2 separate regions of the Homo sapiens genome follow, and region 2 is linked to region 1. The links come from fine-mapping of genetic effects on gene expression. Tissue or cell type: whole blood. Region 1 holds a variant in brackets; the other region holds the start of a gene. All regions are shown on one strand. Distances are between the middles of the regions.

Region 1 (8,280 bases):
AACTCTTGAGAATGTCTGTCTATGGCCTTTCAATTTGAAGGAAATTGTCTGGGTATAAATTTCTCGGGTCATACTTTCTATCCTCTGGGAGCTTGTAGACTCTGCCCCACAGACTCTGGCATGTTCCTAGAGAGAAGCCTGCAGCCAGCCTGATTTCCCCCACTCACGTGACTTGAGATTTTTTACCTGGACTCCCATATGATTCTTTAGCCTTGTATTTCAATACCTTCATTAGCGTATAATGCTTGATGCTGATGGTCTTGAATCAATCTTTTATATTCACATTCAAATCTTTATTTTAGGAATGTTTTTCCCTGTTATGTCAGACTATTTTTCATCGTTGTTCCATTTGTTCTCTTTCTCTTTTCAGGAACTGACTGTGCAAATGTCTGCCTCTGATCTGTCCTCCACGTCTCTTAGTCTTTCCTATAACTGTTATGGGCTGAGTTGGATCCTCTCAAAAAGCTATGGTTTTTTTGTTGTTGTTGTTTTGTTTTTTTGAGATGGAATCTTGCTCTGTTGCCAGGCTGGAGTGCAGTGGCGTAATCCCAGCTCACTGCAACCTCCACCTCCCGGGTTCAAGTGATTCCCCTGCCTCAGCCTCCTGAGGCAGGAGAGCTGAGATTACAGGCACACACCACCATGCCCAGCTAATTTTTGTATTTTTAGTAGAGATGGGGTTTCACCACGTTGGCCAGGATGGTCTCTATCTCTTGACCTTGTGATCCACCTGCCTTGGCCTCCCAAAGTGCTGGGATTACAGGTGTGAGCCACCACGCCTGGCCTCAAAGAGCTATGTTGAAGCCCTGATGCCCTGTCCCCAACAATGTGACTTTATTGAGAAATAGGGTCGATGTAATTAATTCAGATGAGGTCACACTGGATTAGAGGGGCCCTAAATCCAATATGACTAGAGTCCTTATATGAAGAGGAGGGAGATGCAGACACATGGAGAGAACAATGCGTGGAACATCAAAGGCAGAGATTAGGCTGTTGCAGCTAGAAGCCAAAGACCGCCAAGAGTTGCCAGGCACACCTAGAAGGTTAGGCTGGAGCTGTGGAGCAGCTTCTCCCACAGGGCCCCCAGAAGAAGCCAATGCTGCTACCAACAGGATTTCAGAATTCCAGCCTCCAGAACTATGAGAGATTACATTTCTCTTATTTTAAGCCATCCAGTACTTGTGGTACTTGGCCACAGCAGCCCTAGAAAATTAATAGAACTATTGGTATATGTTTTGTTTGTTTCTTTACATTCGTGTGTTTTCCCCAGATGTTCACTATGTGGCCTTCTCCACTCTGTGTTTCTGTTTATCCCATGAGTTGTTTTTCTTGTTTTCATAATGTCTTTCTTCTTTTTAAAAAAAATTTGAATAGTTTTGGGAGTGCAGGTGTTTTTTGGTTACCTGCGTAGATTCTTTAGTGGTGATTTCTGAGATTTTGGTGCACCTGTCACCCGAGCTGTGTACACTATACCCAATATGTAGTCATTTACCCCTCACCCTTCACCTCGAGTCCCCGGAGTCCATTATATCATTCTTTTTTTTTGGCAGGGGGGTGGTTTTGAGACGGAGTCGCCCAGCTGGAGTGCAGTGGCGCAATCTTGGCTTACTGCAACCTCCACCTTGTGGGTTCAAATGATTCTCCTGCCTCAGCCTCCTGAGCAGCTGGGATTACATGTGCGCACAACCACGCCCAGCTAATTTGTGTTTTTAGTAGAGATGGGGTTTCACCATATTGGCCAGGATGGTCTCAATCTCTTGACCTTGTGATCCATCTGCATCAGCCTCCCAAAGTTCTGGGATTACAGGTGTGAGCCACCGTGCCCAGCCACCATTATATCATTCTTATGCCTTTGCATCTCCGTAGCTTAGCTCCCACTTATAAGTAAGAACATATGGTATTTGGTTTTCCATTCCTGAGTTACTTCACTTAGAATAATGGCCTCCAGCGCCATCCAAGTTGCCGCAAAAGACATTATCCCATCCTTTTTTACGGCTGAGTAGTATTCCATGGTGTATATATACCACATTTTCTTTATCCGCTCGTTGATTGAATATCGTTGGTTCCATATTTTGGAACATGATTGGTTGAATATGATTAGTTCCATATTTTGGCAATTGTGAGCTGTGCTGCTATGCCCATATGCATGCAGGTGTCTTATTCGTATAATGACTTTCTTTTCCTTTGGGTAGATACCCAGCAATGGGATTGCTGGATGGAACGGTAGCTCTATTTTTAGTTCTCTAAGGTATTTCCACACTGTCTTCCATAGTGGTTGTACTAGTTTACATTCCCACTAGCAGAGTAAAAGTGTTCCATTTTCACCACATCCACATCAACATCTATTATTTTTTGACTTTTTAATTATGGCCATTCTTGCAGGAGTACTGTGGTAGCTCATTGTGGTGTTCATTTGCATTTCCCTGATAATTAGTGATGTTGGGCATTTTTTTTTCATATGTTTGTTGGCTGTTTGTATCCATACGTCTTTTTTTTTTTTTTTTTAATTGACGCAGAGTTTTGCTCTTGTCACCCAGGCTGGAGTGCAATAGTACGATCTCGGCTCACTACAACCTCCGCCTCCTGGGTTCAAGCGATTCTCCTCCTCAGCCTCCCGAGTAGCTGGGATTACAGGTGCCCACCACCACGCCCAGCTAATTTTTGTATTTTTAGTAGAAACAGGGTTTCGACATGTTGGCAAGGCTGATCTCGAACTCCTGACATCAAGTAATCTGCCCACCTTGGCCTCCCAAATTGTTGGGATTACAGGCATCAGCCACTGCACCCAGCCCATATGTCTTTTTAATTTCAAAGTGTCTTTATTTTTTGCTTCTATTTCTTTCCTGAGAGCTGGTGTCTTTCTGTCTGTTGCCTCATAAGTGCTTTATGGAAACCTTGACATCTTTTAGCTCATTAAGGAGGTTGGGTCGTGTGCAATCTCTTTGAGTACCTGGAGCACTGTGTGTCTGACTCTCCCTCTGTGTTTTTTGTTTGTTTAATAAGTCCTCTCCTGACGTCAGTTCTTGTGGTCTTTGCTTACGTTCCTTACCTCTATTGCCTTTTTGTTTTCTTTAGTCCCTTTTTGGTTCCTTTGTGATTATCATTCACCTTAGAACACAGCCAGTCATTTGTTGCAGGATGATATTGAAGAGAGAGGTATGCAACCCAGAAAGTGACTAGGGTTTGTTTCCAGCAGACATGCTCTTTCCAAATCCTTTATTGTTATTCCTTGGACATACATCACCTCCCACTTCAGCACTGAGGTTTGCCAAGACTCAGCAAAGGCCTTCAAACGTCCTCCTTCCTCTACTTCGCCCCAGCAGTCTCCTGGTGCTGGGAGGAGTTGGGTGCCAGGCAGGAGACATGGACGGTCAGCACGTCCCGTCTCGCCCCCCACTGTCCTGTGCTATTGAACTGGGTCTACAGAAGGATGTTTCTCATGACCCTGCAGCCTGAGCTGCCCCCAGACCCTATCATCCACAGAGGAGGCCTCCCAGTGGTGCTGTCTGTAGGGAGACTGGCTTCCTCCTCGTCTCTCTGTGCCCTCTTCATATTTGTGGCATTTAGCAGCATGTATACTTTCTGGTTTAATAAAAAATGGCACCTGTAATCTCAGCACTTTGGGAGGCCTAGGTGGGCAGATCACCTGAGTACAGGAGTTAGAGACCAGCCTGGCCAACATGGTGAAACCCCATCTCTACTAAAAATACAAAAATTAGCTGGGTGTGGTGGCAGGTACCTGTAGTCCCAGCTACTAGGGAGGCTGAGGCAGGAGAATCACTTGAACCCAGGAGGTAGAGATTGCAGTGAGCCAAGATCGTGCCATGGCACTCCAGCCTGGGTGACTTCTCTCAAAAAAAAAGAAAAAAAAAAAGGAGGTCTTGCTCTATTTTTTCCCCCCAAATTCGTTATTGTTTTCAGTGGGATTTGGGTGCAAGGAGCAGAGTAAACAGGCCTTCAGTAAACAGGCCCAAATGCATTCCTAAGTTTCCTCTTTTCTCTCAGGCCACCCTTTCTTGGCATCCCTCGCCCCCATCCCCCTCTCTTCAGCCATGAAATGCAGAAAGAGAGGAGGTACCTCCCTGAAGGCCATGCTAGTAAGGGGAGGAGTCAGGACACCCCGCCCAGGCACTCTGGCTCCCCAGCAAAAGGATGTG[G/A]GTTTCTCAGGTGTGGCTGTTTCCACTGGGCAGGGCCTGACCTGCAGCTCCTGAAAAGCCACTGTTCTGTCTTCCTGGCTTCTTCAAGTCAGAGTCCCAGAGATAATCACCGTGGGCTCCACGCAGCAGAGAGGGACTTGATCCAACACTCTTTTATCGGCCTCAGGGCCTGGGAGGGTTTCTCAGCATCCAAGAATCCTGGAGAGTGACTCCTGGAACATTACAGGGGCTGTGGTGAAAGACACACCAGTGTCGGAATATAAACCAGCCCCCAGGAAACTGCTTCTAGCCACGCCCTGCCTGAGAAGCCTCAGGGTTTCCTGGAGAGTCTGGGTGGTTTCACCCCACAGCCAAGGAATAGCTAACAGTGAGGACTGGAGAGACCCCACAGCCTGGGACCTGCATTCAAGCGCCGACTCCACCCTTGATTGACCTGCAGGGCACCTGGGGAAGCCACCACCCTCTCTTGCCTCTGTGTCTCCATCTGCCCCATGGGTGGGGTGGCCTGGAGGATCCCTGAGTCTCTGCTGGTGCTGGTGCTCCAGGATTCTGGGACCCCTCCAAGCTCCCTCCCAGGGGCTTGCCCTGCTCTTCACTCCCCCTATAATCCCACTTGGGTGGCTGGTTGGGGATCATTCCCTGAGACCTCTCCTGGATGTGTCTGAAAAGGCCCCTCAGGACCTGCAGCTAGGGCCAGCTGGGCAGCAATGTGGTGTTTGCTTCTGCAACCTTCAGGTCACCATAATGACTCACTCTTCCTTGCCAGTGGAGGAGAGCTTAGGGCTTCCCTTCCCCCAAGAAGCAACTTCATGGTCAGTGAACTTCACAGTGAATTCTAAGAAAGCCTCTCGGCCAAGGGCAGATTTATAGCCCTACATTTGCTCCTTCAGCTATTCCACAGCCAATCTCTTCTTATTCCAGAGGCATAACCTCAAGTCGGCCTAGGAACAGTCACTCGGAGACTAAGTTATGAGACCTAGTTGAGATCTGGGCTATGGTAGAAGGCTGGGATAACAAGTAGCCTTTGACTCTTGTCTCTAGCCACCAAGACCTTTGGTCTTCCTGTCAACCTCTTGCCTCCTTTCTTCTATCCTTACTTATGAAAGGAAAAGATGGACCCTTCATTCATCAATCCATCACTCACACATCCAACTATCCATTATGTACCCATTCACCTACCCACCTATCTATCCATCATCCATCCATCCACCCATTCATCCATCATCTATCCATCTATCCATTTATCCATCCATACATCCACCCATCCACCCATCCTTCCATCCTTCCATTTATCCATTCTAAGACTATCCATCCAGCCTCTATTAATCATCCATCCTTCTCCCTTTATCACCCATCCATATTCTCATCCTTTCACTCATTATCCATTCATCCATCATCTGTTCATTTAGTCATCCCTCCCTCACTCTGCACATCCCTTGTTCAAAAAGCCACAGGCTTAATAACAATAGCAATTATACTACAAACAGTTATAGCCACTATTTATGGAAAGCTTACTTTGCATCAGTCACTGTGCTAATTGCTTTCTTGCATTATCTCATCTCACCTACCACTATCCAAAGGGTCCCATGTCACAGATGAGGAAACTGTGATCAATAATCACCTAAATACTCCCTTAGAGATACAAATATGAAGAAGATAGTGTTTCTCTGACTTCCAGCACTCACCATGGAATGAAGGGGACTGACCAGTGAAAATACAGGGTATCCATGAAGTCCAGAAGCCTAGAAAGTCATAACAATGTATGTATATGTTACATATGAAAGATGTCTTTGACAATATTCTGTATGTTTGCCTGTTTCCAGATTTTATGGACACCCTGTACAGTAGAAATACAAAGTGACAGATGCTCAAACAGGACCAGATAAAACATCCTGTAGAAGCATTGCAAGAAGATAAGGGCACGGGGAGAGGAGAGGATGATGCTAGAGTAGCCAGGGAAGGCTTCACTGCAGAAGTAATATGTGAGCTGAGTGTGATTTTGCTAAGCAGAGAAGGGCTTTGCTGGTAGAAACCAGCAAGTAAAAGGGCATGGAGGCATGAATTGAAGACCTGATCAGAGAAATGCAAATCACTTTTAGTGTTTGCAATAAAGGAGTCATGGGAGAACCTGGGCAACATGAGACCTTCAAAAAAGGCCACCTTGAGCCCATGGGTGTCATTAGAATGACATGGGTATCAGAAATAAATGACCCAGTGCTGCCCAGTTGACATGCTATCTTTAGATGGGGAAAAATAACAGATTACTAAATAGCCTAGTCACTATTATCCGATTTTGTGCTGTAAAGTGCATACAGTCATCTTTCAGTATCCCTACAGGATTGGTTCCAGGATCCCCTGTGGATACCAAAATCCACAGATACTCAAGTCCCTTATATAAAATGGAGTCATATTTGCATATAACTTATGCACATCCTCCCATATACTTCAAATCATCTCTAGATTACTTATAATACTTAATACAATGTAAATGCTACATAAATAGTTGCTGTAGTATATTTTTAACTTGTATTATTTTTATTGTTGCATTTTTTGGTTTTAGTTTTTTGAATATTTATGACCCTCAGTTGGTTGCATCTGCACATGCAGAAACTGCAGATATGGAGGGCCAGTTGTATATGTCTGGAGTAAAAGGCTGGAAGGATATTCTAGGATGTCAGCAATGGAGATTTCTGGGTAGCGGGATTTGGGATAATTTTTATTTTCTCCCCATACTTTCTTCATCATGAGCATGGTGGAAGGAAAAAGGGCTTGGGCCCTGGGGGGCAGGGCATCTGGGTTGGATGTTCTATTGGCCACTGACTTGCAAGGAGGCCTTGGGCAAGTCCCTTCCCCTCTCTGGCTCTTGGCTTCCTCACCTGTAGGATGAGAACTGGCCCAGGGCTCCCTGAAGGTCCCATCTGGCCCAGCTACCCCAGGCTGGGGTTTCTCAGACTGCAATCTGGAAATGTGTCCTTAGGGGGTCCTTGCATTCTATGAAAAGTGTCCAAAAAATGGCCGGGCACAGTGACTCATGCCTGTAATCCCAGCACTTTGGGAGGCCAAGGCAGGCAAATCACTTGAGGCCAGCAGTTCGAGACCAGCCTGACCAACATGGTGAAAACCCATCCCCACTAAAAATACAAAAAAATTAGCCAGGCATAGTGGTGCACACCTGTAATCCCAGCTACTCGGGAGGCTGAGGCACGAGAATCACTTGAACCTGGGAGGCGGAGTTTGCAGTGAGCCAAGATTGTGCCACTGCACTCCAGCCTGGGCAACAGAACAAGACTCTGTCTCAACAAAAAAAAAAAAAAAAAAAGAAAAGAAAAAGAAAAAGAAAAAGAAAATTGTCCAAAAAATATTTGTGTGCTTTCATTTTCATAATGAAATCCGAGGAATGAGTTGTACATACACATAATGTACTAAAAGTTGTGTCTGGGACATAGTGAAGCCTCCATACATGTGAGCTATTTTTATTAAGAAAAATAAAAAAGCCATCTATCATTTATTCATCTCTGTTGCAGTGATAATTCGCAACAGAAAGACATTTTCCTGGGATAAGATTTTGGTTCTTGGGCCGTTGTTTCTCAAATTGGGACCTGTGGATCTCAGGGGCCCCCAAGACACTCTGTAAAAGGGGCCTGCTACTCAAGTTGAATAAGAAACAAGTCTGGGGCCCCTGAAGAGCCGGGAGTGTGGGCTCTGATACCTCTCGTCCCTGCTTTCATGTCTTCCCTTCAGCCGGGGTGACTTGCTTTTTCCTGAGGCCTTGGAAAGACGCGTACCTTTCCCAGGAAAATGAGTCCCTGAGGAGGCCTCCCCGCCTGCAGGCTCACTCCAGCACCTGTGTTCTGTAACATAGCCCTAATTGAAATCACATTAACATTATGATTCCATTACGGGGAACAAGAGGCTGGCTGCAGGAATGCGCCCCACGGGGCCTAATCAGCTGGACTGGATCATTTATAAAGGGCTGTGCATCTGCCTGGAGCTTCAGTGTTAAGTAAGGCAGACAGGGGCCTATTCATTATTAACAAGGCTTTATGTGTTTGGCCAGGCAGGAGTACAAAGCTGGCCGCAAGGGGAGTCTGAGGGAGGAGAGGCATTCAGGTGCTGACTGCAG
Region 2 (6,152 bases), 45 kb after region 1:
AGGGAACCTGTTTCTGGCTAAAGCTGGGAGGGGGATTGCTCGTCCTCTCTCACCACTCTCATTCTTAAGATATTCTCATTCTTAAGATACCCAGGAGCAGTACCTACCAACCCAACTTGAAACCTGTTGATCTTGTCCAGATGCCTCATTTCACAGATGGTAACACTGAGGCCCAGAGAGGGGAAGGAATCGCCCAGATGGCCAAGACTGGAACGTGGGCCTGTGGACTCCTGGTTCAGGGATCTTTGCTGGGCATTAGGTCTGCAAATGCTCACCCCAATCACTGTAAATCCTGTGTACAGTGATTGGGGCGTAGAACCTGGGTGGTGCAGCACTAGACACACTTCGGTGAATTTGGGGCTTTTAGGCCAATTCAACTTTTTTCTCCAGATGCTGGAGAAAGCGAAGCCTAAGAGCTTCCTAGGGGAAAGGTGAGTATTTTCAGAAGAACCACTTCCACTAGATGCCCCAATTCCAGAGGTATTGAAAGCACCCTGGCCTGGGAGTCAGGAGGTCTGGGTTCAATGCCCAGCTCTTAACCATGATGAGAATCTAGTCTATGTTTCTTCCTCAGTTTCCCTATTGGTGAAATGAAGTGGTTGGATTACAGTGAATTCTCCACAAGTTTCCTTCCCGAATCTTTTTAGAACTTTCAGGCCAGGCCACTTCCGGGTTTCTGCCAACCTAGACTCCAGTGGGTCGGCTCTGGCCTTCACTGCTCCTTCTCCCTCCTGAGGACTGCCCATCCATCCACAGCCCCACCACCTGCTCTTTCGTTCCTTCCCAGCTTCTCCCCTCTTTAGCCCCTCTCCTTGGTGGAGACTTCACCCTCTAAGTTTCCTGATAAGCCACAATCTTGGTGTCTTACTTGCTTTCATCAAACAGCCAAAGGGATTCTATGGGCCATTTGCCCAAGCCTCCATTTTACAGATGTAAGGACCGAGGCCAGAGAAGGGAGGGATTTCCTCAAGATTACCTTGTGAGAGGGAGGTGCGGTCTTCCTGTAACCCGAGTCAGCCTTATCTTGTCCAGGACTAAATTTTTCGGGCGCCTAACTTTAAAAAAATAAAGTACTTTTTTGGCCTAATATAAGGTTGGTACAAAAGTAATTGTGGTTCTCGCCATTACATTCAATGATGAGATCCACAATTACTTTTTTCTTTTTTTTTTTTTGAGACAGAGTCTAGCTCTGTCGCCAGGCTGGAGTTCAGTGGCGCAATGTCGGCTCACTGCAACCTCTGCCTCTCGGGTTCAAGCAATTCTCCTGCCTCAGCCTCCCGAATAGCTAGGATTACAGGCACGTGCTGCCATGCCCAGCTAATTTTTGTATTTTTAGTAGAGACGGGGTTTCACCATGTTGGCCAGGAGGGTTTCAATCTCCTGACCTCGTGATCCACCCACCTAGGCCTCCCAAAGTGTTGGGATTACAGGTGTGAGCCACTGCACCCAGCCCACAATTACTTTTGCACCAATACATAGAATTATGTTTCCCAATTGAGAGGACATTCGAGATGTTCAAGGAAATTAAGGTCATTGGAGGTAATCCAAGGGCCTCCAATACCCTAATTGACCTGGTGAGGAGTGGGAGTGGAGGGGGTCCCTTCCCAATTCTCTTTTCATCAATGCTCTTGATGAAGAGTTTGTTGCTAATGTGTCTTTAACACCTTTCTAGCCTTTGGTAACCTTCCTTTCAAAGAGAAAGTGGGACCTCAGCTTCAACACCTCCTCAGGCAGCAGTATCTTGTTAGACTGTATTATTATTATTGTGGTTAAAGATACATTGTTAGAATTTAATAACACTTATTTTCATTGTATTTATTTTGATGGTTACCTTCTATTTATAGTAATGTGATGCTGGCTTTCCATTTATGGTAATAATTTAACATATCTTTTTAAAAACAAGCTCACTTAAGTAAATTAAAAAAGAATGAAAAAATAAGAGTTGATTTAGAGAAGCCTATTCAGCAGATGTCCTTAGCTAATGCACAGATAGGGCCAGGTCCTCCATGGAGGCTGGAGAGAGGCTGAGGTCCAGGAAACTGACTTGGAACTGGAGTCAGGGACCGAGCTGGTTGTCTAAGTTGTGCAGCGGGTCTGCACTCTCTTCCCCTGCGCCTGCCCCGTTCTGCCAAGCCCCAGACCCTTAGAGACTCTATCCCTCTCTCTGCCTGTCTCTGGTCTCCACTTCCCCAGCTCCAGCACCCTTGCTGTGGGCTTCCCGTTTTTCCTCTTTAAATGTATGTGGCGCCTGGTGTCCAAGGAGGCTCACACGGGGCCTCTCCCAGCAGCATTCCACAAGTGCAGGGCCTGTGGGGTGTTCAGCCTCCACCCTCCATTCTGTTTTGGCAGCTGAAGGGTGAATGTGGAGCCCTTCTCCTTGTCCTCCTCTTATAGAAATTCCACCATTAGGGACTTCCTCCCCTTGGGTGAAGCTTTGCTCACTCTGGGTCCCTTTGAAACCGCGGATCCAGGGATTTTTCTTCCAGCCACGTGCCTACTCTAAGAGTCCCGGTGACGCGGTGAAGTTCTTTAAAGGACCAGACATCCCTGAAGTCCTTACAGGGACATCCCCTTACAGGGACGAATCCATTTCCTGGAATGTGGGCAAGGAAAGGCAGCCACTTCCTGCCTCTCAAAACTCTGGCTGGTGGCTGGGTGCAGTGGCTACGTCTGTCATCTCAGCACTTTGGGAGACTGAGGTGGGAGGATCACTTGAGGCCAGGAATTGGAGACCAGCCTGGGCAACATGGTAAGAGTCCAGCTCTACAAAACACACACGCACACACACACACACACACACACACACACACACACACACACCAAAAACAACAGAAAACATTAGCCAGGCATGATGGCACATGCCTCTGGTCCCAGCTACTCGAGGGGGCTGAGTTGGAAGGATTGGATTGCTTGAGCCCAGGAGGTCGAGCCTACAGTAAGCCGTGCAGGAGGTCGGGCTACAGTGAGCTGTGCTTGTTGACCAGGCTTGTCCAGCCTGGTCAGCAGAGCGAGACCTTGTCTCAAAAACAAAACAAAAACAAAACAAGAAGATCCCCCTCCCCCCAAACTCTGCCCAGTGGCCTGACTACCAACATCCATATACAAGACAGGAGTAGGGTCAACTCCTTCCTATCAGTCACCCCTTAGTGAGAATCAGCTGGCCAAGGGGCCTCCTGCAGAGCTGATGTGTGCTTGAATGCCTAGGGCCCACGGGGATGGGGTGTGGAAGCTTCAAGCTGGGACTCAAAACAGAGTTGCCAAGGGAAGAGGAGTGGGCGACCCGAGCCCCTGTCATCAGTACTTTCACTTGGGCTGTCAGTTTTGATCTGCTTGCTTGTCCGTTTTGTCTGGGGCAGGGTCGGGTAGTTGTTTAGAGGAGGCTCAGAGGTTAAAAGTCTCAGGCAAGTCATGTCAGGGGTTGGGAGCCAGTGCTGCTGTGGCAGCAGTACAGAGAAGAAAAGATAAGCTCCCCAGCCCCGCAAGAACCTCAGCCCTGAGGCCGGAGACACAGATCTGGCCCCTTGCAATCAAGTCATTTGCATCTGACCTGGGGTCAGGCCCCTCCATGCAGGAAGTCCCCTTTCTTATCTGCAAGTCAGAGGAGGGTGAGTTCCCCAGGCTTTCAACAGGTACTTCCCCCGGCAGCGGGAAGCCCAGGAGCCCGATCAGGACCGAGGATCTCACCCCAACCCCTGCGTTTGGGCCCCGGGGTCAGCTGAAAGTTCCCCTGGAATAAACACTTCGGGTCCAGCATGCCCCTCTCCCCACTCCCGCAACGATCTTCCGAATTCAGACGCAGAGAGGGCCCGCGAGCAGAGCGGGAGGTGGTCGGAGGCGGAGGAAGGGGAGATGGGCAGAGGGTGGGCCCAGGGACCCCCAGACAAGGCCTGGACGCGGGGTTGGAGGAGGAGGCGGAGGCTGGCGGGAGGCGAGGGGCAGCCCGCAGAGGAGACGCGCTTCTCGGCAGCAACGGCGTCTGGAGCCGGGAGGGGCGGAGGTTTGGGGAGGGGGAGGGAGGGCGGGGGAGGGGAGGGACGGACGGCGGCGGAGGTGGGGCCGGCGGGCTGGCGGGCGTGCAGCTGCCGCCGGCGTCGCGGGGCTCCAGGCTGCGGGGCGGACGTAGCGCCGAGCGATCCACCGCGGAGCCGCGCGAGGCCGCCCGAGCCCCAGCCCCGGCCCCGGCCCCAGCCCCGGCCCCGGCCCCGGCCCCGGCCCCGGCCCCGGTCCCGGCCCCGAGCCCCGAGCGAGCGCCGCCGCCTCGCGCTGCGGGTCCCCGGACGCGCCGCCACCGCCGGGAAGGCAGCCGGCGCCGGGCAAGTTGCGAGCGCGCCCCTCCGACCAGGAAAGTTTCCCCCCGGCCGCCGGCGGGATTTGGCGCGGGGTCCGGCAGCCGCCGCTGGAAGGTATGGGGCTCCGCACCTCCGTGCCCTCCGCACGCCGCCGCCGCGCCCCCGGGGACCTGGGGACCCCCCCGCGCGCCGCCCCGGGGGTGCTGCTGGACGCGGCGGGGAATTGGGGTGGAGTAGGGATCCCAGGACGGAAGCCCGGCAACCAAGTTCCACTCAAACTAGCACGCGGGGGCTGGGGGGCCGGGGACGGTCTCCACCCCGTGCCTGCCCGGAGTCCGCTGAGGGCCGGGGGCTGCGCCCAGGACAGGTGCAGAGCCGGTGGGCTCCCAGTGCTCCGGGTGGAGGAGTGGGGGCTTCTGGAGAACGGCGCGGGGTGGCAGGTGTGGTTACAAGGTTCGGGGTTTCGGCCAGGGCTGCGCCCGGAAAGGGGCTGCTCGCCACGCCACCCGGTAAGACAGTGAGGGACCAGGGACTGGGAGCGGCGATCGGGGCCGGGAGGGCTGTGGGGCCCGGCAGCTGCATGGAGGGCGGGCTGCCTTTGGGGTCCCTGGCAGCGGGGCGGGGCGGGGCGGAGGCGCCACTCGTTCCTCCAGGACCCCCCTTATTCCTTAGGTGTGTGCGGTTTGGGGAAGTGGAGACTCCATGGAGTGCTGGGTGGGTGGGAGGCTCGGGCACGTCCAGATTTAGGGGGCAGTGGGAGCCAGTTGGGACGGTGCTCGGCTCGGGTGGGATCGCGCCGGCTCCGGGTCCTGCTGGAGTGAGGTGACTGGGCTCCCGCCAGGGGGCGCACTGCCCCGGCCCTCGCCAGCAGGAAGCGCGTTCTGGCTCCTGCGAGGCAACCGCGCCGACATCCAGGACGCAGGGACCACAGACACCCAACTTACGCGGGGTCCCGCCCCGAGGAGCCCGCCCTACACTAGCCAGACGGGGGAGCGGGACCAAGAGTGAGGCGAAAGGTTCACAGTTATAACTGCGCCGTGGGCTGGAAAGGCTAGGAGTCAGGATGTGATTTTTCTCGGGAAGGCTGCCAGGGCAAATGGATGAGTAAGAAATTTACCCCCAGAAAAAGATGTAAGAAACTACAACTGCGAATTGGTGCAGAGAGAGTGGGTTGGGGAATTAACTTTTTGACGGTTTTTGGAGTTGCAGAAACCCAAACCCCAAAATGCATGCACCCTTTTTGTAAAAGTTGCACCTTTGTTTCCTGGATCTGGTCGAATCCCTGTCTGGTGAAGGCAGGATGGGGGTCTTGGGGTATCCTCTCTCTGGGCACAAGTAAACTGGGAGGCACAGGGCGGGCGGTGGGGGATGGGGCCTTAAAGACTTCAGCAGTCCAGGCAGAAGTGTTAAATTTCTCAGCAGTCAACGAGCCCTGGCCCCCACCCTCATCCCCTGGGTCTGTGGTCTCTAGGCCACATTCTTCTGGTCATTTCACAATTATTGGTGGAAATCTGCCCTGGGTCCCAGTTGTCTGGCCTCAGGGTCCCTGTATGTTGAGTCTGTGTGTCTGTGCCTTGGGAAGTCGACGGCTGCTGGCATCTGTGAGGACTGTCATCTTTGTCATGTGCGGGGCTAACATTGAAGGGACATTGGAGGGACTATTGCCTCATCTTTCTCTCCAGTTCCCTCCCTCCTCCCATCACCCCAAGTGAGTGCAAAGGAGCAAATCATAGATTGTGCCGTGGCCTCATTGTGGTTGGTAGAAGTTTTCATCTTTCTCTTAGCTGGTAACCTGTGCTCCTTGGGCAGCCCCCCTCCTGCTCCCATGTCCTTAATGTCCCTTACAAAGGTGGGGGAAATGGG

The links. PIP is the estimated chance that this variant, and not a neighbour inherited with it, causes the effect.
Region 2: it holds the start of TSPAN18, and the variant in region 1 is fine-mapped to the expression of TSPAN18 in whole blood (TOPMed, PIP above 0.99). The same link has a PIP of 0.9 or more in T cells and blood mononuclear cells.

Annotation. Positions count from the first base shown.
Region 1 is chr11:44,676,992-44,685,271 of GRCh38, forward strand. No RefSeq gene overlaps it. Among named protein-coding and RNA genes, the nearest start is that of LINC02704, 20 kb to the right of the region's middle. The variant G/A (reference allele first, on the strand shown) is at 4,158.
Region 2 is chr11:44,722,885-44,729,036 of GRCh38, forward strand. It overlaps TSPAN18 (tetraspanin 18), which reads left to right and starts at 4,078. Exons shown (of 10, transcript NM_130783.5): 1 at 4,078-4,403. The region is part of intron 2 of TSPAN18-AS1 (TSPAN18 antisense RNA 1); the gene reads right to left. RefSeq lists enhancers at 2,606-3,466, 3,467-4,328, 3,695-3,864, 5,580-6,082, 6,083-6,152 and silencers at 4,055-4,204, 5,041-5,210.